Homo sapiens: one gene and its partners. The protein of the gene in region 1 interacts with the protein of each later gene in a pairwise test. Each region holds a gene or a part of one and is shown in the gene's direction. Other genes may lie near its edges.

The links. The genes of interacting proteins can lie anywhere in the genome.
Region 2: the proteins of ATXN1L (region 1) and SHISA2 interact in binary tests that used the Homo sapiens proteins (3 or more experiments, as listed by UniProt).
Region 3: the proteins of ATXN1L (region 1) and C1orf94 interact in binary tests that used the Homo sapiens proteins (3 or more experiments, as listed by UniProt).
Region 4: the proteins of ATXN1L (region 1) and SPMIP9 interact in binary tests that used the Homo sapiens proteins (3 or more experiments, as listed by UniProt).

The regions. Positions count from the first base shown.
Region 1 is NC_000016.10:71,848,604-71,852,475, forward strand, and holds part of ATXN1L (ataxin-1-like), read left to right. Parts: intron 1-1,020; 5' UTR 1,021-1,137; coding exon 1,138-3,207; 3' UTR 3,208-3,872. UniProt on the Homo sapiens protein: Chromatin-binding factor that repress Notch signaling in the absence of Notch intracellular domain by acting as a CBF1 corepressor. Binds to the HEY promoter and might assist, along with NCOR2, RBPJ-mediated repression.
Region 2 is NC_000013.11:26,046,557-26,049,016, reverse strand, and holds part of SHISA2 (protein shisa-2 homolog precursor), read left to right. Parts: intron 1-1,950; coding exon 1,951-2,460. UniProt on the Homo sapiens protein: Plays an essential role in the maturation of presomitic mesoderm cells by individual attenuation of both FGF and WNT signaling.
Region 3 is NC_000001.11:34,204,407-34,207,906, forward strand, and holds part of C1orf94 (uncharacterized protein C1orf94), read left to right. Parts: intron 1-3,500.
Region 4 is NC_000002.12:88,523,405-88,527,448, forward strand, and holds the start of SPMIP9 (protein SPMIP9), read left to right. Parts: upstream 1-1,244; 5' UTR 1,245-1,378; exon of another isoform or gene 1,379-1,402; intron 1,403-2,005; exon of another isoform or gene 2,006-2,095; intron 2,096-2,230; 5' UTR 2,231-2,240; coding exon 2,241-2,267; intron 2,268-3,000; coding exon 3,001-3,093; intron 3,094-4,044. UniProt on the Homo sapiens protein: Microtubule inner protein (MIP) part of the dynein-decorated doublet microtubules (DMTs) in flagella axoneme.

The DNA.
Region 1 (3,872 bases):
TTTCACTATATAGAGGCTGAGTTAAAATGTATTATTTCATGGGTCAAAGATGTTAATTTTCATAACCTGGTTAGGGAGCAAAGTCTTAAAAAAAAAAACAAAACACGAGCAGACCTGAGGGTTTTGGCACCTAGGTCCTTGAGGTACTGATGAGATGAGGCAAAGGAGGAAGAGAGTTTTTAGCCAGGCTTGGGATAGCAGTAGGTGAGATCATAACCCAAATTAGGCTACAGAAAGGAAGCAAGGATGAGGTCATATGTTCAGGAAAGAAGGTGGCACATTCATGTTTGGTAGCAAAAGGAGAAACTTAAGAAAAAGAGCCAGCAGGAGGCTGGGCGCTGTGGCTCACACCCGTAATCCCAGCACTTTGGGAGGCTGAGGTGGGCGGATCACCCAAGGGCAGGCGTTCGAGACTAGCCTGGCCAACATGGTGAAACCCCATCTCTACTAAAAATACAAAGTTAGCCAGGCGTGGTGGTGCATGCCTGTAGTCCCAGCTGCTTGGGAGGCTGAGGCAGGAGAATTGCTTGAACCCGGGAGGCGAGGTTGCGGTGAGCTGAGATTGCACCATGTACTGTGGCCAGGGCAACAAGAGCAAAACTCCATGTGTTTTAAAAAAAAAAAAAAAAAAAAAAAAAAGCAAAAGAGCCAGCAGGAAAGACCATGTGTTCAAAGCCCCCTTTGGGAAGAAGGCAGAAAAGAGACAAGGTGCTTATGAGACACATGACTAACCGTGAAGCTGTTGGTCTCCCTGGGCTTGTGGAGCCCACAGGTTATTTGTGCATTGGTGAATGCGTGTCCCTGTAGCTCTTTGTGCCTTGTGATTTCCCCGACTGTTTCTCTCATGTCCCAGGCTGGATGAGTTGGGGGTAGCCTCCTTGTCTGCCCCTTTCTCTTTCCTCCTTATTTTCTAACAGTCCCCTTTGTTACATCTTCCTCCATGGCACAGTTCTTTCTATTTCCTTTGTCTTGGCTCATCCCTAGGTTACTTTTCTTTGCCTCTGATTTGTTCCCTAATAGATGTGGGCGCCCCAGCCAGAAGCAGAGAGGGGTACAGGGAAGCTACAGAGAAGCCCCTTCTGATGCCCCAGGGAGCAAGTCGACTCCTTCCAGGCTCCAGGAACACCACAAAGCAATATGAAACCTGTTCATGAAAGGAGTCAGGAATGCCTTCCACCAAAGAAACGAGACCTCCCCGTGACCAGCGAGGATATGGGGAGAACTACCAGCTGCTCCACTAACCACACACCCTCCAGTGATGCTTCTGAATGGTCCCGAGGGGTTGTGGTGGCTGGGCAGAGCCAGGCAGGAGCCAGAGTCAGCCTGGGGGGTGATGGAGCTGAGGCCATCACCGGTCTGACAGTGGACCAGTATGGCATGCTGTATAAGGTGGCTGTGCCGCCTGCCACCTTTTCACCAACTGGACTCCCATCTGTGGTGAATATGAGTCCCTTGCCCCCAACGTTTAATGTAGCGTCTTCACTAATTCAACATCCAGGCATCCACTATCCTCCACTCCACTATGCTCAGCTCCCATCCACCTCGCTGCAGTTCATTGGGTCTCCTTATAGCCTTCCCTATGCTGTGCCACCTAATTTCCTACCGAGTCCCCTCCTATCTCCTTCTGCCAACCTTGCCACCTCTCACCTTCCACACTTTGTGCCATATGCCTCACTTCTGGCTGAAGGAGCCACTCCTCCCCCACAGGCTCCCTCCCCGGCCCACTCATTTAACAAAGCTCCCTCTGCCACCTCCCCATCTGGGCAATTGCCACATCATTCAAGTACTCAGCCGCTGGACCTTGCTCCAGGTCGGATGCCCATTTATTATCAGATGTCCAGGCTACCTGCTGGGTATACTTTGCATGAAACCCCTCCAGCAGGTGCCAGCCCAGTTCTTACCCCTCAGGAGAGCCAGTCTGCTCTGGAAGCAGCTGCTGCAAATGGAGGACAGAGACCACGAGAGCGAAATTTAGTAAGACGGGAAAGTGAAGCCCTTGACTCCCCCAACAGCAAGGGTGAAGGCCAGGGACTGGTGCCAGTGGTAGAATGTGTGGTGGATGGACAGTTGTTTTCAGGTTCTCAGACTCCACGGGTAGAGGTAGCAGCACCAGCACACCGGGGGACCCCGGACACTGACCTTGAGGTCCAGCGGGTGGTTGGCGCTTTAGCTTCTCAGGACTATCGTGTGGTGGCAGCTCAGAGGAAGGAGGAACCCAGCCCCCTCAACCTATCCCATCATACCCCCGACCATCAGGGTGAGGGGCGAGGGTCAGCCAGGAACCCTGCAGAGCTGGCAGAGAAAAGTCAGGCCCGTGGGTTCTACCCTCAGTCCCATCAGGAACCAGTAAAACATAGACCTTTACCCAAAGCAATGGTTGTAGCCAATGGCAACCTGGTGCCCACTGGAACTGACTCAGGCCTGCTGCCTGTGGGCTCGGAGATCCTGGTAGCATCAAGTCTGGACGTGCAGGCCAGAGCCACCTTCCCAGACAAGGAGCCAACGCCGCCCCCCATTACCTCCTCTCACTTGCCTTCCCATTTCATGAAAGGCGCCATCATCCAGCTGGCTACGGGAGAGCTGAAGCGGGTGGAGGACCTCCAGACCCAGGATTTTGTGCGCAGTGCCGAAGTGAGCGGGGGGCTGAAGATTGACTCTAGCACGGTCGTGGACATTCAGGAGAGCCAATGGCCTGGATTTGTCATGCTGCATTTTGTGGTTGGTGAGCAGCAGAGCAAAGTGAGCATCGAAGTGCCCCCCGAGCACCCCTTCTTTGTATATGGCCAGGGTTGGTCCTCTTGCAGCCCTGGGCGGACGACACAACTCTTCTCTCTGCCCTGCCATCGGCTACAGGTGGGAGATGTCTGCATCTCTATCAGTTTACAGAGCTTGAACAGTAACTCAGTTTCTCAGGCCAGCTGTGCTCCCCCAAGCCAGCTGGGTCCCCCCCGAGAAAGGCCTGAGAGGACGGTCTTGGGATCCAGAGAGCTATGTGACAGTGAGGGGAAGAGCCAGCCGGCAGGAGAGGGCTCCCGTGTGGTAGAGCCTTCCCAGCCTGAGTCCGGTGCTCAGGCCTGCTGGCCAGCCCCGAGCTTCCAAAGATACAGCATGCAAGGGGAGGAGGCACGGGCTGCGCTGCTCCGTCCCTCTTTCATTCCACAGGAGGTAAAGCTGTCCATTGAAGGGCGTTCCAATGCGGGAAAATGAACCTCTTCCCCAGACCAGGACTGGGGCTTTACCCCAGAGCCTCGCCTCGCCGCCGTGAGCAGGCAGAGGATTTGCACACGCCGAGCAGGGAATGGCTTTCTTGGCAGTGAGATTTGGGGGAAAGGGGAGGCATGAAGTCAGCCTCCCAAGGCAGGATCTGTTGTTCATTACCCCATGGCATCCTTTCAGGACAACCCCAGAGGGTGTTGTGATGGGGAGCAGCAGGCCTGGGGCAAGGAAGGAAGGGGGTGCACACAGGAGAAGAAACATTCCAAAATCAGGGCCTCCCTGTTCTTTCCTCCCCATCCCTAGCTCCTGCAAGAGAAAGTCCAGGCTTTGGGAGCAGATGGCAGAGGGAGGGAGTAAAGAAAGAGCCAAAAATGATGATCCACAGCTTATAGTAGCAGTTAAACTGTCAGAAGTTTTTTTTCTTTTTTGTGGTAGAAGGGCAGGAGGCCCCAAGGTTGGAAATAAGAGGGTTCCCACCCAGAACCCTTCTTGTGAGAGATGCGCACTTTAAAGGGTGATTTTGTTCCAGATGTCTATGGCTGGGTGTGTGGGGGAGGAGCACTCTCATCTGCAGGACTCTGCTTGATCCTCTGCTTCATAGCCCTTCCCCATCTCTCCTCACCATTCTGCCTACAAGGCTTCTAGCAGCACGGGGG
Region 2 (2,460 bases), on another chromosome or scaffold:
ACGCCAAGGAAAAAGCCTGCATCCACTTCTCCAGTGATCCGTAGTTAGCCTGAAGTGATAGTGTAATTAGGACAGTTCTACTGCTGGGCGCCAGCTGTGCTGCAGACACTGTAGCAAATGTTTCTACCTGCTAAAGGGGCGCTATATATAGAAATTGCTCTGTTCAGCATTGAAACTCCAGGAAATATTCCACAGTCAGCCTTTGGTTAAATACCTATAAAGTATTGTTTTACTTACAGGGCATTATTTCTCCATAATTCCACCTGGTATTATACTTTAAAAACACTGACTCCAGCAATACCAGAACAGTGAAAAGGAGCATAATTAGAAAGCCCGGCTGCTCTAATGGATGATGAAAGGGTATTCATAGAGCTGACCTCAAAGGCGTGGTCTCCTTCCTAAAATGCTGCCCCATCCGACTCTGGGCTGGCATTATGCTTTGCCAAGACCAGTAAGACCCAATCCACCCCTGTGCTTATGTATTTCCCAAAAATATAGCCAGGAGGTTGGGGCAAGAACACATCAGAAAATGCAGGCTCTTGGTAACATAGGGTAGAATTCCACAAAAGTGGCTCAGAGGCATTCTGCAGGCACCTCCCATCTGATTCTGTCCCTGTCAACCTGCGTCTATTTTCTAAAGCCTTGTAGTGCCCTCTCTATGGCTCCTAAAAGATTTTTTTAAGAAACTAATTTTATGTATTTATTTATTTATTTGAGATGGAATCTCAATCTGTTGCCCAGGCTGGAGTACAGTGGCACAATCTCGGCTTACTGCAACTTCTGCCTCCTGGGTTCAAGCGATTCTCCTGCCTCAGCCTCCAGAGTAGCTGGGATTATAGGTGCGCGTCACCACACTCAGCTAAATTTTGTGGTTTTAGTAGAGACAGGGTCTCACCATGTTGGCCAGGCTGGTCTTGAAGTCCTGAGCTCAGGTGATCCACCCACCTTGGCCTCCCAAAGTGCTTGGATTACAGGCGTGAGCCACCGTGCCCCGCCAGAAACTAATTTTAAAATGGAGTTTGCTAGTGGTTTTATCAAAAGGTTTTTATTTTTACTTTTTATGGTTTTCTATTTTAAAATCAGCTTCCCGGGTGAAGTGTGATGGCCGTTGCTTTATGCTCTGAGGGCTTTCCCTGTGTACTCTTGCCTTCTTGGCTTGCTGTGGGTGACTCTTCTTTCTGGAACACGTCTTGTTGCTCCTGATGTTTGCTCTTGGACATTGTTTCAGGATGGCCCAATGCCTGGAATAACTTCCCTCCACCTCCACACAGACCCCATCACCTGGACCCAATGCCACCCAAGGACCCTGGCTTTTGCTAAGGAAGAGTGAAGAGGGTCTTTTTTAAACCCCTCCTTGACCCTTCTGTGCCTTACCTCTTGTACATCTGCCTTTTGGAAATGGTAGTGACTTAGAGTCTGGCCTAAATTTTTGACTTAACTGCTTATGAAAAAAGAACTTGCTAAAAAATGGTAAAAAGAAATTTGCAAGGAACTTAAATAACTTTCTGGGGGAAAAAAGACTTTTAAATAAGTTGAAGTCATTATTACTATGAAGATCCTACAACAATATGGTCGGGCAGACTTAAGTTTGGACAGTTTGATTATGGTAGGAAGTTTAGAACCATAACTGTCTTAACCTGTTAAACCCATACTTTTGCTAAATCGGATATCTGGCTCAGTCAGTCTTGCAGTTGACAAGTTGAACTAAATATTAACAGTTTGCTTCTAGGGGCTGACCTGCCATGCCTGTAGGGTCTTAGGACCTTTCTAAGCACTTGATAAAGAATGGTGCATCTTATGGACTCCTAATATGTGAACAAATTAGCCCAGTGTAGGTCCTTCAGCTGTGGGTATCAGTGTTGCTCATTCATTCATTGCCATTGCCAGTTGGCGATTGGTACTGTGTTCCTAGAGTAGATCATAATGTTGTGTTTCTGTCCTTTGCTTCAGTGCCCATCTACGTGCCGTTCCTCATTGTTGGCTCCGTGTTTGTCGCCTTTATCATCTTGGGGTCCCTGGTGGCAGCCTGTTGCTGCAGATGTCTCCGGCCTAAGCAGGATCCCCAGCAGAGCCGAGCCCCAGGGGGTAACCGCTTGATGGAGACCATCCCCATGATCCCCAGTGCCAGCACCTCCCGGGGGTCGTCCTCACGCCAGTCCAGCACAGCTGCCAGTTCCAGCTCCAGCGCCAACTCAGGGGCCCGGGCGCCCCCAACAAGGTCACAGACCAACTGTTGCTTGCCGGAAGGGACCATGAACAACGTGTATGTCAACATGCCCACGAATTTCTCTGTGCTGAACTGTCAGCAGGCCACCCAGATTGTGCCACATCAAGGGCAGTATCTGCATCCCCCATACGTGGGGTACACGGTGCAGCACGACTCTGTGCCCATGACAGCTGTGCCACCTTTCATGGACGGCCTGCAGCCTGGCTACAGGCAGATTCAGTCCCCCTTCCCTC
Region 3 (3,500 bases), on another chromosome or scaffold:
GTGAGAGGTTGTGATGAAAGGTGACCTAAGAAGGAAGCTGAAGTGGACCAGTTTCATATTAGTAGTCTATTGTCATGGACCTGTTCATATCAGTAGTCTATTGTCCTTACACAGGTCTTGAAATGTCCTGTTCATTGATTCGCTGACTCCTTTACCAATATGATTCTACCCTTTCATTTTTGTGTGCCTATTCACTATTCATTTACTCACCTACTCACGATTTACTCATTTCTATGTATTTATTTACTCATTAATTTAAGTAATTTTGAAAACCATTTCTCCCTACAAGCCTACTAGAGGCTGAGCATTGTTCTAGGTGGAGGGATTCAAAGATGACTAAAGTCAGGTGTGGTGGCATGTGCCTGGAGTCCCAGCCTACACCAGAGGCTGAGATAGGAGAATTGCTTGAGCTCAGGTGTTCAAGACTAGCCTGAACAATATAGTGAAACCCTGTCTCTAAAAAAAAAAAATGATGACTAAGAAAAGCTTGGAGTCTAATGCAAGTTCAGGAATAAACCAGAGATCAGCTCTATGCATCTCCACCTCTAAAGGGGAAACAACTGCATAATTCATTTAGTACAAGTCGATTCACTCTAAAATGCCCTCACAGAGCTCACCGTGTAAAACTAATTTGCAATGGTTTGCTTTATTAAGTGGGGATAGCATCTCTTTGCTATGTTAATTTCTTCTGACTTTTTGGAGTGGGTGAGATTTGGACATATCATTTTCTGAGCATGACGGTCCTCTGTCTTTAGCATCATAGGGCTGACTATGAGGTTCCTGGGCTTCTGAGCAGAAGCAGCAGAAGGACCCTGGCTGGTAAGGCCTGCTGGGTTCTTTGAGACAGTTTAAGCACTGAATGGGCCCAGCTGAAGTTGGCTGTGGAAGGCATTGGTCCTCCCAGGTAATAAGGAAGGACAGCATAATTTACCTTCTCCCAGCTTCTGTGATCTCACAATGCTGTCCAGCTTCAACATAGCTGATCAAGGGGCCTGAGATAATAGCAGGCAGGTTTTGAAACCAGTAGACTTGACTTTAAAGGTTCTGCTGCTTCCAAGTTAGGCCTTAGGCTGGTTAGCTGCTCAGAGCCATGGTTCCTCATTTGTGAAATGGGTTCATAATAATTGCAGCAGCAGCAGCAGTAGCTACTGATATGGTTGTAAGGATTAATTGAGTCCATGGAAGGGTAAAGACTCTGTAAAATTTAAGCTGTGACACAGATGTTGGTTTTTATTATTATTCAGCCTCAATCTTCCAAGGAAATGGGGTCAGAGAGCTCCACAGACCTTGAGGGGACAGAGAGGAGAAATGGGGAACAGTCTAGCCTGGTCTTTTCCCTGTTTAGCACTGGGAATAAAGATAAGGTCCCAAATCCAATTTACTCAGAGCTCTGTGGTAGGAGGACTCAGAGATGTGAAAGACAAAGTCCCCAACACCGAGGAGCTTCAGAGGCTCCTGGGCTACTTGGCATAAAGGAACTCTGCTCCCAATGAAGGAGGGAGGGTGCGTGGGAAGGGACCATGGCTTAAGCAAAGAACAGTGAATGTTTATTTACCCTTGCCTGTGATGTTACAAACTTGCAATTCTAACAACTAGAAATGTTGTTGAAGTCATGCAGTGTTTTCTAACTCATGAGTGTGGCACCATCTCCTGAGAATCCGCCCTGGGACTGAGCAGCGGTGGGCAGCTGTTTGCCATCCACAGAGCCTAGGGCAGCCTGGCACAAGCAGGTGTGGGATGGTGGAGGCTGGGGAAGTTGGCTGTAGAAAGCAAGGGGCACCTTCCTCCCTGGTGCTCCCAGGAGGACCAGGGCCACCAGCTTAAGCCCTCTGCTGTCCCTACTGTATGGGCTCCTGTGAGGGGTGGATGGCATGGCCCATGCTGGGCATTCTGGAGACTGCTCAGTGCTGTACCTGAGGGAGAAGATGATGAAAAAGAGGCAGAGGGAAGATGAAAGATTCCCATAGGGAAGCTCAGCTGCTGCAACTTAGGCTCTGCGGTCTGGAGGCATAGCTCTGGTCACCCTCTAAGAGGGTACGATGAGTCTCAAAAATGGTGACATGGAATGCTCCCAGCAGAGATCTTTGTGTATGATGCCGTGCACACACACAATTGCACACAAACGATATCCATGCATGTTTGATGCACACACATAGAAACAGAAACAGGCAGGCGCACGACTGCCTGTAGAAAGCAGAGATGAGTGCTAACAGGGATCAGAGGAGGCGGCGAAACAGAGGAGGGACACTTAGCAACATGCCTAGTGGCCTTGGAGCTCATGGAGGGCTGAGAACAGGTAAGGCAACACCATCAGTCTCACTGCTCTGTCCAGGTTCAGGCAGAGGCTGGGGTTGCAGGGACCGGGCAGTGGTCATAACAGGAGAGAGAGGCTGCCCTGGGCTGTAGAGCTTGGAGTAAAGGGGAGCAGGTGAGTGGTTTCAGGTGAAGGAGTGGACAAAAGTGGGAGGGGCCTGAGCATGGGAATGTCAGGAGTGTCCCCTGCATGGGAGCAGAGAGCAAGGAGGGGCTCTGAGAAGAGGTACACTCTTGGGGACCTGGAAGATGGAGCAGGAGGAGAGCAGGGAGACCTACTTGCAGACTCCATATCAGAAAGTCCACAGGCCATGAGGGAACCCTCAAGGGTGTAGGGTCAGCCATCATCAACACTTTGGTCATTGGCACAAGCTGAGCTGAGAATGGAGGCAGCCTCTCGGGCAGCAGATCTTCTGAGAAGATGTCCTGGGCTGAGGGGTACTTTGGGTTTTGAGCCTCATCTTAAGGGAAAACTCGGGATTGACAGGTGGAGGCAGAGTCTGAGACTAGAACTGACCACTGCCACAGCAGCAGTTCTGCGGGGTGTGTGTGTGTGTGTGTGTGTGTGTGTGTGTGTGTGTGTGTCTTACGTCTGTGTGTGGACACATGAGCACCTCAAGACAGAATTGTGAGTAAAATGTCAATTTCCCATCTGGCTGAACTGCCAGAAAGCTGTTTAAGGGAGGAGGCAGTGATGGATGACAAACACACTGAACATTGAGTCCTTACTATGTGCAGGGCACTGTTCTAAGCTCTTTAGATGTATTAACACTTTCACCCTCACAGTGCCCCTCTCCGTAAGCTACAGACACAGGTATATGGATGGGCACATAGATACACAGCAACACTAACACACCTGGGTTCACAGTTGTATATTTGTACACAGAAATACACAGCTGCATAGACACAAATGTAAACACACATGCAGGTGTATTTAACATGGATGCAAACCAACACACACACGTAGAGACGTGCATAGACACCTTGTGTCTTCAGGGGGCAGGTATGGGATTAGGGGAAGGCATTTAGAAAAGTTGTGTGGACAGCAACAAAGATAATGTGGCTACCTTCATAGGCTTTGCAGGCCTGAGCACATGCAATTTTTTAGAGAAGGAAAAAGAGGCTCAGAGATGTGATTTGCCCAAGGTCACACAGCCACTAAAACACAGATCTGGGACTCGGGAGGC
Region 4 (4,044 bases), on another chromosome or scaffold:
CATATATATAACAAAGTTTATCATTTTAGTCACTTTTAAGTGAATAATTCAGTGGCATTAAGTACATTCACAATGGGCAACCATCACCACCATCCATTCCCAGAACTTTTTTTAATATTCTGAAACAGAAACTTCATATCCATTAAACAGTAACTCCCCATTCCTCTCCTCAGTCTCTGGCAACTATCATTCTACTTTCTGTCTCTATGAATTGTACTTCTCTAGGTACCTCGCAGAAGTGGAATCATGCAGCATTTTTCTTTTTGTGACCGGCTTATTTTGCTTTATTTTGCTTAGCATAATGTCCTCAAGGTTTATCCATGCTGTAGCACGTGTCAGAATTGCCTTCCCTTTTTTTTTTTTTTTTTAATTTTGTTTTGAGACAGAGTGTCGCTCTGTTACACAGGCTGGAGTGCAGTGGTGTGATCTCGGCTCACTGCAACCTCTGCCTCCCGAGTTGAAGCAATTCTTCTGCCTCAGCCTCCCGAGTAGCTGGGACTACAGGCGTGCACCACCACACCCGGCTAATTTTTGTATTTTTAGTAGAGACGGGGTTTCACCATGTTAGTCAGGCTGGTCTGGAACTTCTGACCTCAGGCAAACTGCCTGCCTCGGCCTCCCAAGTTGCTGGGATTACCAGCGTGAGCCACCGTGCCTGGCCTCCCTTTTAAGGCTGAATAATATTCCATTGTACGTAGATACCAAATCCATTCATCTCTGAAGGACATGTAAGTTGTTTCTACCTTTTGACTATTGTGAACCATGCTGTTGTGAACGTTGGTGTACAGGTATCCATTTGAGCCCTTGCTTTCAATTCTTTTTTATTTATAACTAGAAGTGGAATTTCTCCACATCCTCATCAACGCTTGTTTCTGTATTTTTTTTTTATTGTAGCCACACACTATGAATGTCAAAAAGTGACATTTTGACAATTTTGAGCCAGGCTTTCAGGCAGCAGAGGCCTGGGTGGCAGTCTGTGGTGTGAAGTGGATTTAGTCACACACAGTCTGATGTTGTAAACCACATGGGCTCTATTTACCTTCCTCTCCTAGGACTAGGAAGATTCTGTAGAGTATCGGAAAGCATTGGTTCATGTGCTGCCAGGATTCATGTTGGCTCTGGTGAGCCAGGGACAGGGAACTGACCTGCAGGCAGCCCAAGCAGCCACCTACTCACCTCACAATGACAGGGACCCTCATCATACAGGTCAGGGCTCAACTCAAAGACAGGCGTGGCAGTGGGACACAGCAACAGGACTCTCCATGTGGCAAGGGCACCTGGAGGTGGGAGGGCAGGAGCGTCGTCTTGCCCTGGCAGAAGAAGCGGTAGGCTCTGTCTGCGTGGCAGCTGGTCCCCAGCCCTAGGAGAGAAGCTGTCTGTGAGCAAAAGGGAGGGGATACAGGTGTTGGTTGAGGTCTGGGCACCACCCTGCTGGGCCACAGTCTGCTGAAGAGAGTGGGGCTTAGGGGAGGGTTCCCTGGGAATGCAGTGGAGTACCCCTTAAGGATCTAGGGGCCACGCACACAAGGAGTCTGTGCAGCGAGGCCCTCGCTAGGACTTCAGGGCTGGAAGGGAGGGGTCAGTGTTAGGCCTACAAACTACTGTTGTTCAACTGGGAATGCAGAGTCTTGCAACTTTCTTCACCTTGGATACTCCCCTGTGAATCAAGGTGGCTCTGAGTCCTAGGCCTGGGCCTTCCTCTATCCAGGGGAAGTGCTGAGGCCTGGTTCAGAGGAACATGTGAGCTGGAGCCAGTTCATACTGGCTCACAAGAGCCCATCCTGTGCATATCTGTGCAACTCAGTGCCAATGACATTATGTTGATAGCCTGAAATGAGCCATGATAGGAGCATTTACACCACAGAAATTGGCAGATGCTATAAACCCAGGGCCTATTTTCCCTGAAAACATGGTTGTTAAACATTTACCAGCACTTCACTTGCCCTAGGATCAGCTATACCTCTCAAACAGTAAACCTGATCAGTAAATGTGATCTTCTAAACAGCCCTCATTCCTCCTGAGTCCTGCTCCAGCCCCTTTGTCCCAGGGACCCTGGTATCACCACCAACCCCTTGATGATGGAGTGACATGCAGGGTAGGAGCCCAGGGAAGATGGGGAGGAGTGGGCTAAGAAAGCTGGGGCAGCCATGCTTGGTTGGCACAGCTTGAAGATAGTGGCTACTTTCCTTGTCTGTGGCAGAGCAGGGCTAAACAACTTGTCTGTGTCTAGGTCGTTTGCCATGGCAGGTGTGAAATACCCGGGACAGGTGAGTGATGTGGGTTTCTGTCCCCTGTGACGGTCTCAGGGTTGGGTAGCCTCAGCAAGGCCCTGGAAGGGCCAGGCTCTTTCTAGAAGCTCATCTTTCTGTAATGATAGTTTTGGGTTTTGTGGGTTTTTTTTTTTTTTGGTACAAGAAGAAGAAGAGAACTGAGTTTTCTTCTTTATAATTTTCTGGGGGTTCAGTTATTTACTCAGCATGCACTTATTAGGCACCCACAGTGTGCCAGGCCCTGTCCTGGGCTTTGGGACTGCAGAGATGTCTAAGTACACTAAACCTGCTCTAGTGTACTTCATTAAATCCATCACAGTACACCCTGCAAGTGCTGTTGTGGAGGGTTGTAAGGAACAAGGAAAGGGTTTAACTCTTGGGAGGTGGAGAATAAAAGGGTGGGAGAGATGTTTTGGGGAAGTGACATTTAGTCTGGGTCTTGGAGGATAGGTAGGAGTTTGCTAGTCTGTGAGGAGGGCAACTTGCATTTCCATCAGGAGATAGGAAAGAGCACATGCCAGGCCCATGCAAGTGGGAGGAAGTAAGGCTGGAGTAGAGAAGGCAGGAAGGTGGCGGGATGGTAAAAATGGGTCACAGCCAGATCATTTGGGCTCTGAATGTCAGGCCCCAAAGTCGGCCTTTGTCCTACAAACAGCAAGAAGCCATTGAATGGCTTTAAGTGGAGGAGTGACGAGGGAATCTCTTGTTTTATATTCTCCTTGTGCTTTAGGACCCTGTGGATTTAGACATATACCAAAGCTCCCACATGGTCGACTATCAGCCCTACAGGAAGCACAAATACTCCAGGGTCACGCCGCAAGAGGTAGGAAGGCACGCAAGTCCTGTCATTCAATCAACTGCCTACTGAAATCCTCTCTGTTGCTTCATTTGTATTACAAATGTGGACATTTGGGCCCTTGTTAGAACAATATCCAATGCCAGGAGATATGACTTAGAGATCTTTTCTGTGCATGTGCATGTATGTGTGTGTATTTTTTTTTTCTTTTTGAGAAGGAGTCTTACTCTGTCACCCAGGCTGGAGTGCAGTGGCGCGATCTCGGCTCACTACAACCTCTGCCGCCTGCCTGGATTCAAGCGATTCTCCTGCCTCAACTTCCTGAGTAGCTGGGATTACAGGTGCCTGCCACTGCGTCAGCTAATTTTTGTATTTTTAGTAGAGATGGGATTTCACCATCCTGGCCAGGCTGATCTTGAACTCCTGACCTCGTGATCCACCTGCCTCGGCCTCCCAAAGTGCTAGAATTACAGGCGTGAGCCACCGTGGCCGGCCATGTGTGTATGTTTTCAAATGTACATCAAATACGTCATGCATACAAAAAATTGTAAATAATACACATTTAGAGTTAAAATTACACTGATAAACACCGATGTAACCATTACAGACCGCTTAAAACATGGCACATTAACATTAGCAGTACCTTGTAGCCTCTTGGTAACCCGCAAACTTACCCCTCCTCCCATCTCCAGAAGTGGTTAATCATTCCCTTGTAGGCCAGGCACAGTGGCTCACACCTGGAATCCCAGCATTTTGGGAGGCAGAGGCGGCCAGGAGTTGAGACCAGGGGTTTGAGACCAGGAGTTTGAGGCCAGCAGTTCGAGACCAGCCTGGCTGACATGGCGAAATCCCGTCTCTATAAAAAATACAAAAATTAGCCTGGCTTGTTGGTGCACGCTTGTATTTTCAGCTGCGTGGAAGGCTGAGACATGAGAATTGCTTGAACCTGGGAGGTGGGGCGAGACTCTATCCCCCCCA